Linked DNA regions of Homo sapiens: regions 2 and 3 are each reported to be linked to region 1. The links are microRNA targets in miRTarBase. Many come from high-throughput screens and were not tested one by one. Region 1 holds a microRNA gene; each other region holds the end of a gene's coding sequence.

The links. Region 1 holds the annotated microRNA hsa-miR-30d-5p (UGUAAACAUCCCCGACUGGAAG, at 1,553-1,574, opposite strand). A microRNA usually pairs through its seed, bases 2 to 8, with sites in the 3' UTR of a target mRNA and lowers its output. Matches are read on the target gene's strand: a 7mer-m8 pairs with bases 2 to 8, a 7mer-A1 pairs with bases 2 to 7 and ends in A, and an 8mer does both.
Region 2: miRTarBase lists STX12 as a target of hsa-miR-30d-5p. Seed matches in the 3' UTR shown: 7mer-m8 at 551-557.
Region 3: the mRNA of POLR3E is a reported target of hsa-miR-30d-5p. Seed matches in the 3' UTR shown: 8mer at 784-791 and 8mer at 973-980.

What each region holds. Positions count from the first base shown.
Region 1 is chr8:134,803,367-134,806,494 of GRCh38, forward strand. MIR30D (microRNA 30d) reads right to left here and starts at 1,579; the gene lies at 1,510-1,579. It also overlaps a transcript of ZFAT not described here.
Region 2 is chr1:27,822,046-27,825,113 of GRCh38, forward strand. It overlaps STX12 (syntaxin 12), which reads left to right. Exons shown (of 9, transcript NM_177424.3): 9 at 186-2,398. The coding sequence ends at 284. It also overlaps the pseudogene RNU6-1245P. Among named protein-coding and RNA genes, the nearest start is that of PPP1R8, 7.2 kb to the right of the region's middle.
Region 3 is chr16:22,333,295-22,336,362 of GRCh38, forward strand. It overlaps POLR3E (RNA polymerase III subunit E), which reads left to right. Exons shown (of 21, transcript NM_018119.4): 21 at 350-1,802. The coding sequence ends at 406. It overlaps LOC124903664 (a long non-coding RNA gene), which reads right to left. Exons shown (of 2, transcript XR_007065026.1): 2 at 616-3,068. Among named protein-coding and RNA genes, the nearest start is that of POLR3E, 37 kb to the left of the region's middle.

The DNA.
Region 1 (3,128 bases):
GAGCTCAGCAATAACTATCCTTTCACTGCTATTTGAGTCTAAGGTTTCCAATGTGCTAAAACAGAGGGCCACAGAATATGCAATAAATCTGCTTTATTTAGAGTTCATAGGAAGGGATGCTTGATGCATGCTAATCATCCAGCCTGAAAATTGTATTTACAAGTTGGAAAGCCACCTGAGTCTGAAGCAACTGACCCCCATCCCCAAATAAGTCTTATAAACTACTACTCTAACAAAAGAGCATTTAAAAAATAAAAGCTGTAGCACAAATACATCTGGGGTAACTACATTATGACCAAAACTGTCATTTGCTCATCTGGATAAAAGATAAGAGGCAACAGTAGACACTGCTGCAATAAGATAATATAAAATCATTACTAAAGTACTATACATGCAAGGTGCTTTACTTGCTGTTTATAACAGGAAAAAATAGAATTATCAAGATTTAATGTCTCTGACCTCAGAAAGCTTATAATCTAATCAAAGAAAATAAGCATGTAAATACATTAGATTGGCAAGACCTTTATCTTTTGGTGGTTTAATCATGTATGGAACCTAACATAGTATGTTTAGCAGTTTAATAAAAATAAATGATTTAAAAAAACCAATGCTTTATTGAAAAGAAAAATGCCAATAAAATAGAAATGTTTTCCAGTGTCTGAAAGACTAACAGAAATAAAATAACAATTTTTTAAAACTCAGAAAATAGTTGCTATAAAATTATACATTATCAATTAGTCCACACTGAGTGTCATCTGTGAGAAAAGCCCTGGATTATTCAGATCTGTGGGGAAACACAAAAAATAGATACAATACAGCTGCTTTCAGGGCAGCTATATTTTAAGGAGGAAGCAATAAATCTGAAAGCAACAATCTGAAAATACTTAGGAAAAATATTAATATAAAAAGACATGCATACCCATTAGCAAATGTAAACAGGCTTAGTGGCTTGACGTCTTGCAGTTTTTCTTAGAGGAGAGTTCTGATTAGGAGCTGTAATATCACTCAGGGTGAGGGGAACAGGAAGTGGGGGGCTAAGAGGACGGAGAAAAATGTTGCACACACATCTCTTTTAAGTATAGGGAAAGCTGAAATTTCTAGATTGCATACTGCTGGGTGGTAGTGATGAAATTATTCTCCAGAACTTCCACAGAATTTACAATGGAGAAAATCAGTCTCCTGAATTGTTGGGATGTTAAACTCCAGCCTACTTGGAAAGGTTATAAAGACTAAAATTTCATTGACAGGGCAGAAACAGGAATAGGCGGTGACACTTTTTATTTAACTAAATTCTCTAAGGCCCAGCAGCAGCACGCTAAGTCTGGGAAGCTCGAGACGGCATATCCTGTTATTAGGAGAGCACCCTACATTCAACTATCATAATACGTGCACTGTCAGTGCAGTAAAAGAATGCAGCTAAAGATTTCTGAGGTTTTCCCACACATTTTATAGCCTCCTCAACTCCACTCCGGGACAGAATTATATCAAGAGGATGTCTGTGAATAGCCGGTAGCAGCAAACATCTGACTGAAAGCTTAGCTGTGTCTTACAGCTTCCAGTCGGGGATGTTTACAACAACAGACTTTCTGAACAAGAAATTTAAGAGGAGGAACAGACATAAATGTTGCCAGTCATCATCTTCAGCTAATAATTTATATAATTTCTAGTGCTGAACAATAGCTGTGACATCTTGAAACAAAAATGATAAAGTTAATGCTAATAATTAAAGAGAAAGTGGTTCACCAAGTGCAATTTCTCCTAAATAAATCTAATTTTAAAAGAAAATACGCATTACAAATTTATCTTGGTAAGTATGAAACATTAAAGATATTACCCTGATATCCTACATGAGGATACATTTTTCCAACATATGCAAAAATAAGTTTTCTTCTCCCTAGAGTTTCAAAATAGTAAACACATTAGAATGATAACCCTAATGATCAGTGACCATACATTTCATGGATGCCTGCTGCCCTGACGTTATTGTTAAAAATGACTCCTTTTATTTAAAAAAGCGTTAATTTAGTTGACAATGAATAGAGTGGGTTTTCCTGGCAGAGGATCTAAACTGAGTAAGAATCTAACACTTTCTTCCCCTGTCTCCAGCTGATTTAGGTTAGGGATGTACAGTTCAAGGAAATGAGCAAAACAAAGAGGATAATAAAAGAAACTCATGATCTTAAATTTGTTTATAAGGCAATATACTAAAACCATTTTGTTTCCACACCACTTTTCTGAAAGAAAGGAAAAAGACTAAGTGAAATATAAGTAAATCTGCATTCCATCAAAAACCAAGATTTGCTTTAATTTAAAATATGTAAAATTGCCAGGCACAGTGGCTCATGTCTATAATCACAGCACTTTGGGAGGCCGAGGCAGGTGGATGGGTAGATCGCTTGAGTCCCGGAGTTCAAGACCAGCCTTGGGCTAAGTGGCAAAACCCTACCTCTAAAAACATACAACATATTAGCTGGGTGTGGTGGTGCATGCGGTCCCAGCTATTCGGGAGGCTGAGGTAAGAGGATCCCTGAGCTTGGGAGGTGGAGGCTGCAGTGAGCTGAGCTCATGCCACTGCACTGCAGCCTGGGCGACAGAGTGAGACCCTGTCTCAAAAAAAATAAAAATAAAAATAAAATAAAATATGTAAAGTAACCTTCTTTTGGGGAAAAAAACTATGAAAACAATTAAAGTCCACAATTAAGTCACAGTGATTTATGAAATGATTTAAGAAATGAACATACATACATACATGAGCATGCATATGTACACACACACTCTACAGAATAACTACTGAAGAAAACCAATATACAAATTCTGAGAGACTATTAATTTCCTAATACCAAATTTTTTGAGAAACTATGAGAAAAGGATTTCAGTTGCTGATATTTACCCTGTGATAATATTTAACGGTTGCTCTCTGAAATACTTTTTGTTTAATGTTGTAAATAACTCTACCCATTATATAAATAATGCTGGAAATAATGAGGAAAGTACATGTGGTCTCTATGGATACAAGATGACCTTCACTGTTTTTGAAGAAAAATACTTTTTTAAAAAGTCCAGTGGCTATTTACAACAACAACTATTCAAACTGTACTACAACTGAAACTTTCCAGATTTAAATCAGG
Region 2 (3,068 bases), not on the chromosome of region 1:
AAAACACTTGCACTACTACCTAGTGCTGCTGACTTAAGATTTCTGGGAAAGTCTGTGCATAATTTTGCATGGATAGAGTTAATCTTTAATTACAAGGAGGCAGATTTATGAAGCATTCTTAGAGTCTTACACATACAAATTTTACTTGTTTCATGAGTATCTTGTTTACATATTTCTTTCCTCAGAAAAAATCTCGCAAGAAGATGTGTATCCTGGTGCTTGTCCTGTCAGTGATTATTCTAATCTTGGGACTTATTATCTGGCTAGTTTATAAAACGAAGTGATTGCCTCCGATCGTTCTCCCGCTGAGCTGTTTTCAAGGGCAAGTGCTTGTTGAAGTCTTGCCAGAACAAACTGATCACAAGAAGACAGCATATATCAGAACGTCCTGTAATCATTTAGTTAGAAACTAACTACTAACTAGTCTTTGGAATTCGTGACCTATGGAGACAGTAATTATCAATTTATTGATTCTATTGATTTCTCAAATTAGGAATTAACTTATGTGGATTTTGCTTCCTCTTGTATTCTGATTGCCCTTCATCCCAAGTGTTTACTGAAAATTCCATTCTAGATATTCTTGTTTTGACAAATGACACTACAGTCTCGTAATATTGTCTTTTATGTATATACAAAATTTACCTTTTTACTAGCATCTGAGATAGAGTTACTTTCTGGTACCCAGTATATTGGAGTCTGTCAGAAACTCTATAATAGGCCACCAGTTTTTATTATTTAACATTTTTATTTGAATTTCTAAGAAGCCTATTCTCTATCTATTTTGAAAGATTTTGGCACTATATTTAATTGGAAGGTAAAATATTGTACATGTGATCCAGAGTAAATGAGAAGTCTCTATCTGAGCTGGTCAGTTACTGGAGTACATGTTACTAATCTGGGTTTAAAGTTTACTTCATTATCTGCTAGTGTCATCCACAGCAGTTCATCCTCATCCACACTAAGCCATCCTGTTAGCTTTTAAAGGAAGTTAATTTAATTAACATTAATATACTCTATGGGCTCCCTCTCCCACCTGTCTGCATAGAAAGGCAGAATTAGACATAGCATGCTTTGGAAAAGCAAATAGGAATTGTTGGGAATGATTTAATCTTGTTGTTGTTGTTGTTGTTGTTCACTTGTGGTTCTACATTCCTGGTGAATGATGAATGTTGCTGTCAAAGGGCTGCCCCCTACCTTATAAGGGTTGCTGGGCATTTGAAGGCAGGAAGATTTTTAAAGATAGATTGAGGTTGGTTTAAAATTATTCCTGTAAACCAACAATAAAGCAAAGAAGAGGTTCATTTTTGTAAATAACACTGGTTTCAAATAGTGATGTTAGACTTAACCTAATTTATAAACAAGAGATTAATATCTCCATGCATAGTTTTAGACAAAAAAAGATGTTTCAATAAAATTACTGTCTTGTAATATAAATGTTGTCCACTTCCCTTTTCCACAGGCCTAGAACAGTTAAAGGGAACATAATTTGTTTAGGCTCCCACATAAATGTGAATCTGGCCAACAACTTTGGTTCATCCTTTAGTGAATTAGAGGATTTGGCTACCCTGAGTATATTTATATTCATTTCTTCTGTTCTCCTTCTGTTATTATACTTAATCTTCTAAACTAAACTAATGTGAACAGTAGGGAAGCAAGGGCCCAAATGCATAAGTTTCTTTGCACTGTTGCACTTACTTAATACAAATAAATGTTTTTTAAAGCTTTTGTAGTATGTTTTTATGAGTTAACATCCTAATGTGGTAGGTATTAGGTAATGTGCTGTCATGAGAAAAATTGAGACTTCCAAGAAAACTGGACACCAGGTGAGGGTTGGTTTGGAGACGGAATAGGTGTAGCTGCCTTTCCTTGAAAAACAGTGTGTAGAGATGGCTGAGTGCAATGGCTCACACTTGTAATCCCAACACTTTGGAAGGCTGAGGCGGGAGGATCAGTATATCGGTACGTCTGAGCCCAAGAGTTCAAGATCAGCCTGGGCAGTATAGCAAGACCCCATCTCCATTTTTTTTTTAATGATTTTTTAATTAAAAAAAAGAACAACAGGATAGAGCTGTTGGGGTGGCACAGTGGCCCAAAGAGCAGCTTCAGAGATAATTCCTTGGTTCTATGATCCCTGTTTAACTCCAAATTACAGTCGGACTTGGATACATCATTTGTAACATTGTAGGAAAGAAAAAAGTCTTGGTTGTGAAAAACGATTTGCATTTGGGTAAAATAAAGTGACCATGCTTTTGTTCTGTAATACTGTGTGACCTGTGGTTGTTGTAATGGTGATCATGGAGAGCAAATATGAACTTGGCCTGGATTTTAAATGGCCTAGAATTTGTGGTAGTTGCCAAAGAGGTTCTCCTAGGTGGTCTTAATAAACCTATTCACAGAATTCTCCTTATCTGTGCCTTGATTATCATTGGGAGCATCACAATCTAGGACAGCAGTTTTTAACATGGCTTCACATTAGAAACTAAAAAAATACAGTGCCCACTTTGGCAGCACGTATATAAAATGGGAACAATAGAGAGAAGATTAGCATGGCCCCTGCACCAGGATGACTTGCAAATTCATGAATTCTCTCTCTCTGTCTCTCTCTCTGTGTGTATGTATATATATACTTTTTTTTTTTTTTTTTTTTTTGAGACAGGGTTTCACGCTGTCGCCCAGGCTGGAGTGCCGTGGCACAATCTCAGCTCACTGCAACCTCCACCTCCTGGGTTCAAGCAATTCTCATGCTTCAGCCTCCCAAGTATCTGGGATTACAGGTGCTCACCACAATGCCTGACTCATTTTTTAAAATATATTTTTAGTAGAGATGGGGTTGTACCATGTTAGCCAGGCTGGTCTGGAACTCCTGACCTCAAGTGATCCGCCCACCTCGGCTTCCCAAAGTGCTGCAATTACAGGCCTGAGCCACTGGCGCCTGGCCGAAGTGCTCTATATTTTTAAAAAAATATTCTCTGTGCTCCTCTTCTTGCTAAAAAATAAAAAATAAATACTGATACCTCAGTCCCACAACTCCAAGATTTTAATTTAGTCTGGAGTATATATAGCTTGGG
Region 3 (3,068 bases), not on the chromosome of region 1:
ATACAAAATTAGCCAGGCGTAGTGGTACATGCCTGTAATCCCAGCTACTTGGGAGGCTGAGGCAGGAGAATCGCTTGAACCTGGGAGGCAGAGGCTGCAGTGAGCCAAGATCATGCCGTTGCACTCCAGCCTGGGTAACAAGAGCAAAACTCTGTTTCAAAAAAAAAAAAAAACACTACCCCTGAGGAAAGGGTGGCTGGTAGTAGCCATGGTGGTATGGTTAGGCAGTTTTTGATTTCCCATTTGTATTCTATTCACTAATCATAAATCGAGTGTTGACATTGTGGACAGAATGTAATTAGCTCCTTTTCCTGCAAAAATCTGTGCTTACCCTGTTTCTCTCTCATAGGACTGCTGTGTAAGCTATGGTGGCATGTGGTACCTTAAAGGGACAGTACAGTCTTGACAATAGTAGCAAACTACTAACCCAGCAAATCTAAGCCCAAGGAAGAAGGGCGGAACCAGAAGTAGGGCCTCGACTTGCTTCAGACGACACAGAGCAAGAGGAACTGACCATCTCATGACCTGTGGCATTGCACGGTGCAGTGGACAGAAGGGATTATCCTCAGCCAGTCGCAGGGTCAGCTTAAGTTAGTTAGATCACTCCCAGAAGAGACCAGCTGGGACCTTCTTTGCAGTACAATTTGAAATTCCTGATGTATTTTGCTTATTATTTGGTTTCATTCTCATAATAAAGAGAGTGTATACTGACATGGGCAGGATGATAAAAATCATGGTTTAATATTTTCTTTTGTAAACTTAATGCCAACAAGGTCTAAGTTATGTTTACAACATGAAGAAAACCTCAAAGTTCTTAATTTTTAAAATGCCTAGAAGACAATATTTAGTCTTGGATTATCTATCTGCTAAGACCTCCACCAATTTCATTAAACCAAATTGAATTATTCTATTCTTGGGATTCTGTGGCCACTTCACCTTTGACAACAACCTACTTTATGTAGCAGTCTCAACTGTTTACATGAACCATAGCAAAAAAATCAGAATCAAATCCATCTCCTTTTAATGTTTGCAGAAAGATGCAAACAAAACCAGGTAAGTATGGAACAATGTGTAAGTGAGGTTATCACACTTTGATGTAAAAATTTCTATTTTGTGTATTTTTAAAATAAATGCAAACACTAAACTAGCATCATGGTGCTATCTTCAAATGGTTACAGGAAGGCGATCTTGTTGGGCTCAGCGTTACGTGTATCTAGAGGGAACGGAGCTAATGGAGGAAGACAGAGCAGCACTGTCCACTAGAAAGAGGCGAGTCACGTACATAATTTTGAAAGTTTCTAGCAACCACATTAGTTTAAAAAGGTCATGTTAGCATATTATTTAGCTCAAAATATCTAAAACATCAACATAAGGTAAAAGTCTTCAAAATCTGGCATTTTACACTTTCCTCAACACTCAGTTTGGACTAGCCACATCATAAGTGCTCCGATGCCACATGGGGCTATTTGCGACAGTATTGGATAGCACAGCCCTAGAAACTGATGGAAAAAATAAGAGTAAGCTAGGTTGGATGACATGTGAATTTTGGTATCTAGATAAGGCTTTCGCCATCTTTTTTGTACAACACAGTCACTAATTGTCTGAAGGTTTAAATGACGGTCTATGCTATTTCCCCACTCCCCCCAAAATAAAACATCTAATATTTTAGCTATAGAATCACTAAGGCATTGATCAAGGATGTACTTTGCCAAATAAGTATTTGGTAACATCACTTAACAAGTTGATCGTGTATTGATTCTGTTAACATATGTGAACCTGAAAAGTAAAGTTACCAAAAGCGATTTGGAATATGTCTCAGCTTTTCCATCCTACTTCCTTCTCACTTTGAAAGGGGAAATGCTCATGTGGGACGGCACAGAATGTTAGTCCCATCACCTTGCAGAACTTAATTGGCTCAGTGGAGAAGTCAGAGCCTTAAATACTTTACATTGATAAAAAGAACTGGTTAAAACACCAAACTCAAATAGCAAGAAAAAGAAACAAGGAATATAGGAGGGAACTATTGTTTTAAAAAAAATTGAGGGAACTTGGGATGTCAGAATAGGACTTTCCAGCACTCATCCCCCTGCAGAAACATGAATTTAAACAACTGTCCACACACAAAAATACCTTCACAAGAGTTAAGGAACCTCTAGAGATTACAGCACCTTGGTGTACCACAGAAATAAGATGTACTAAAGAGGATAGGAGGGACAATTTTACATTACCTAGCTTACCCCCTCCCCAGCCCCAGGCAGCACAGGGTGGAGAGAGAGAGAGAGAGAGAGAGAGAGAGACCCTCTACTTGGAGGAAGGAGAACATTGGACCCCAAAATCATGCCAGCCCCAGACTCCAGGCCTGCGCCAGGAACACAGGCTCTAAGCATACCCACTGCCAGGCCTGCACCCATGAGCTCACACTCTAGCAGGCACCCCCTCCCCACCCTGGTCCAGCCCCATCTGAGTAAACCCCAGCACTGGGCTGGCCCTCACAGACTAGGCTCCAATATCCCCTGCAGCCCCAGGTTCTAGGCCAGCCCCCATGGCCCCAGGATCCAAGCGAGCCCTCAGAGACTAATCTCCAGGCCAGTATCTATATACCCCTGGCTCCAGGCTGATCTATATGCCCCCATGCCAGCACCCACAATCCCAGGCTCCAGTACAATACCCCTGGACCCAAGGTCCATGTGTGCCTCAGCACCAGGCTCCAGTGGACCCAGGTTCCAGGCACATACCTCAGTAAGCCTCAATGCCAGGCATGCCCTGGCGGACTGAGGCTCCAGAACAGTCCCTATGGACCCAGAACCTAGGCCCACCCCTGCAGGTTTTTAGGCTTCAGGTCAGCTCCCTGGATGCAGGCTCCAGGCCTGCCCTTGTGGACTCAGGCTCTGGTTGTACCCCTGCAGACCCAATCAACTGGCCCACTCCACTGGACCTACGTTCCAGGATTAATCCTATGCATGCAAGCACCAGGCTCATCCATCTGCTGACCTAGGTACTAGGTCAGCCTGCTCAAGGACTCCAGCAACAAGCCTGCCCACAGAAGACCACACCAGACAACTTGCCCA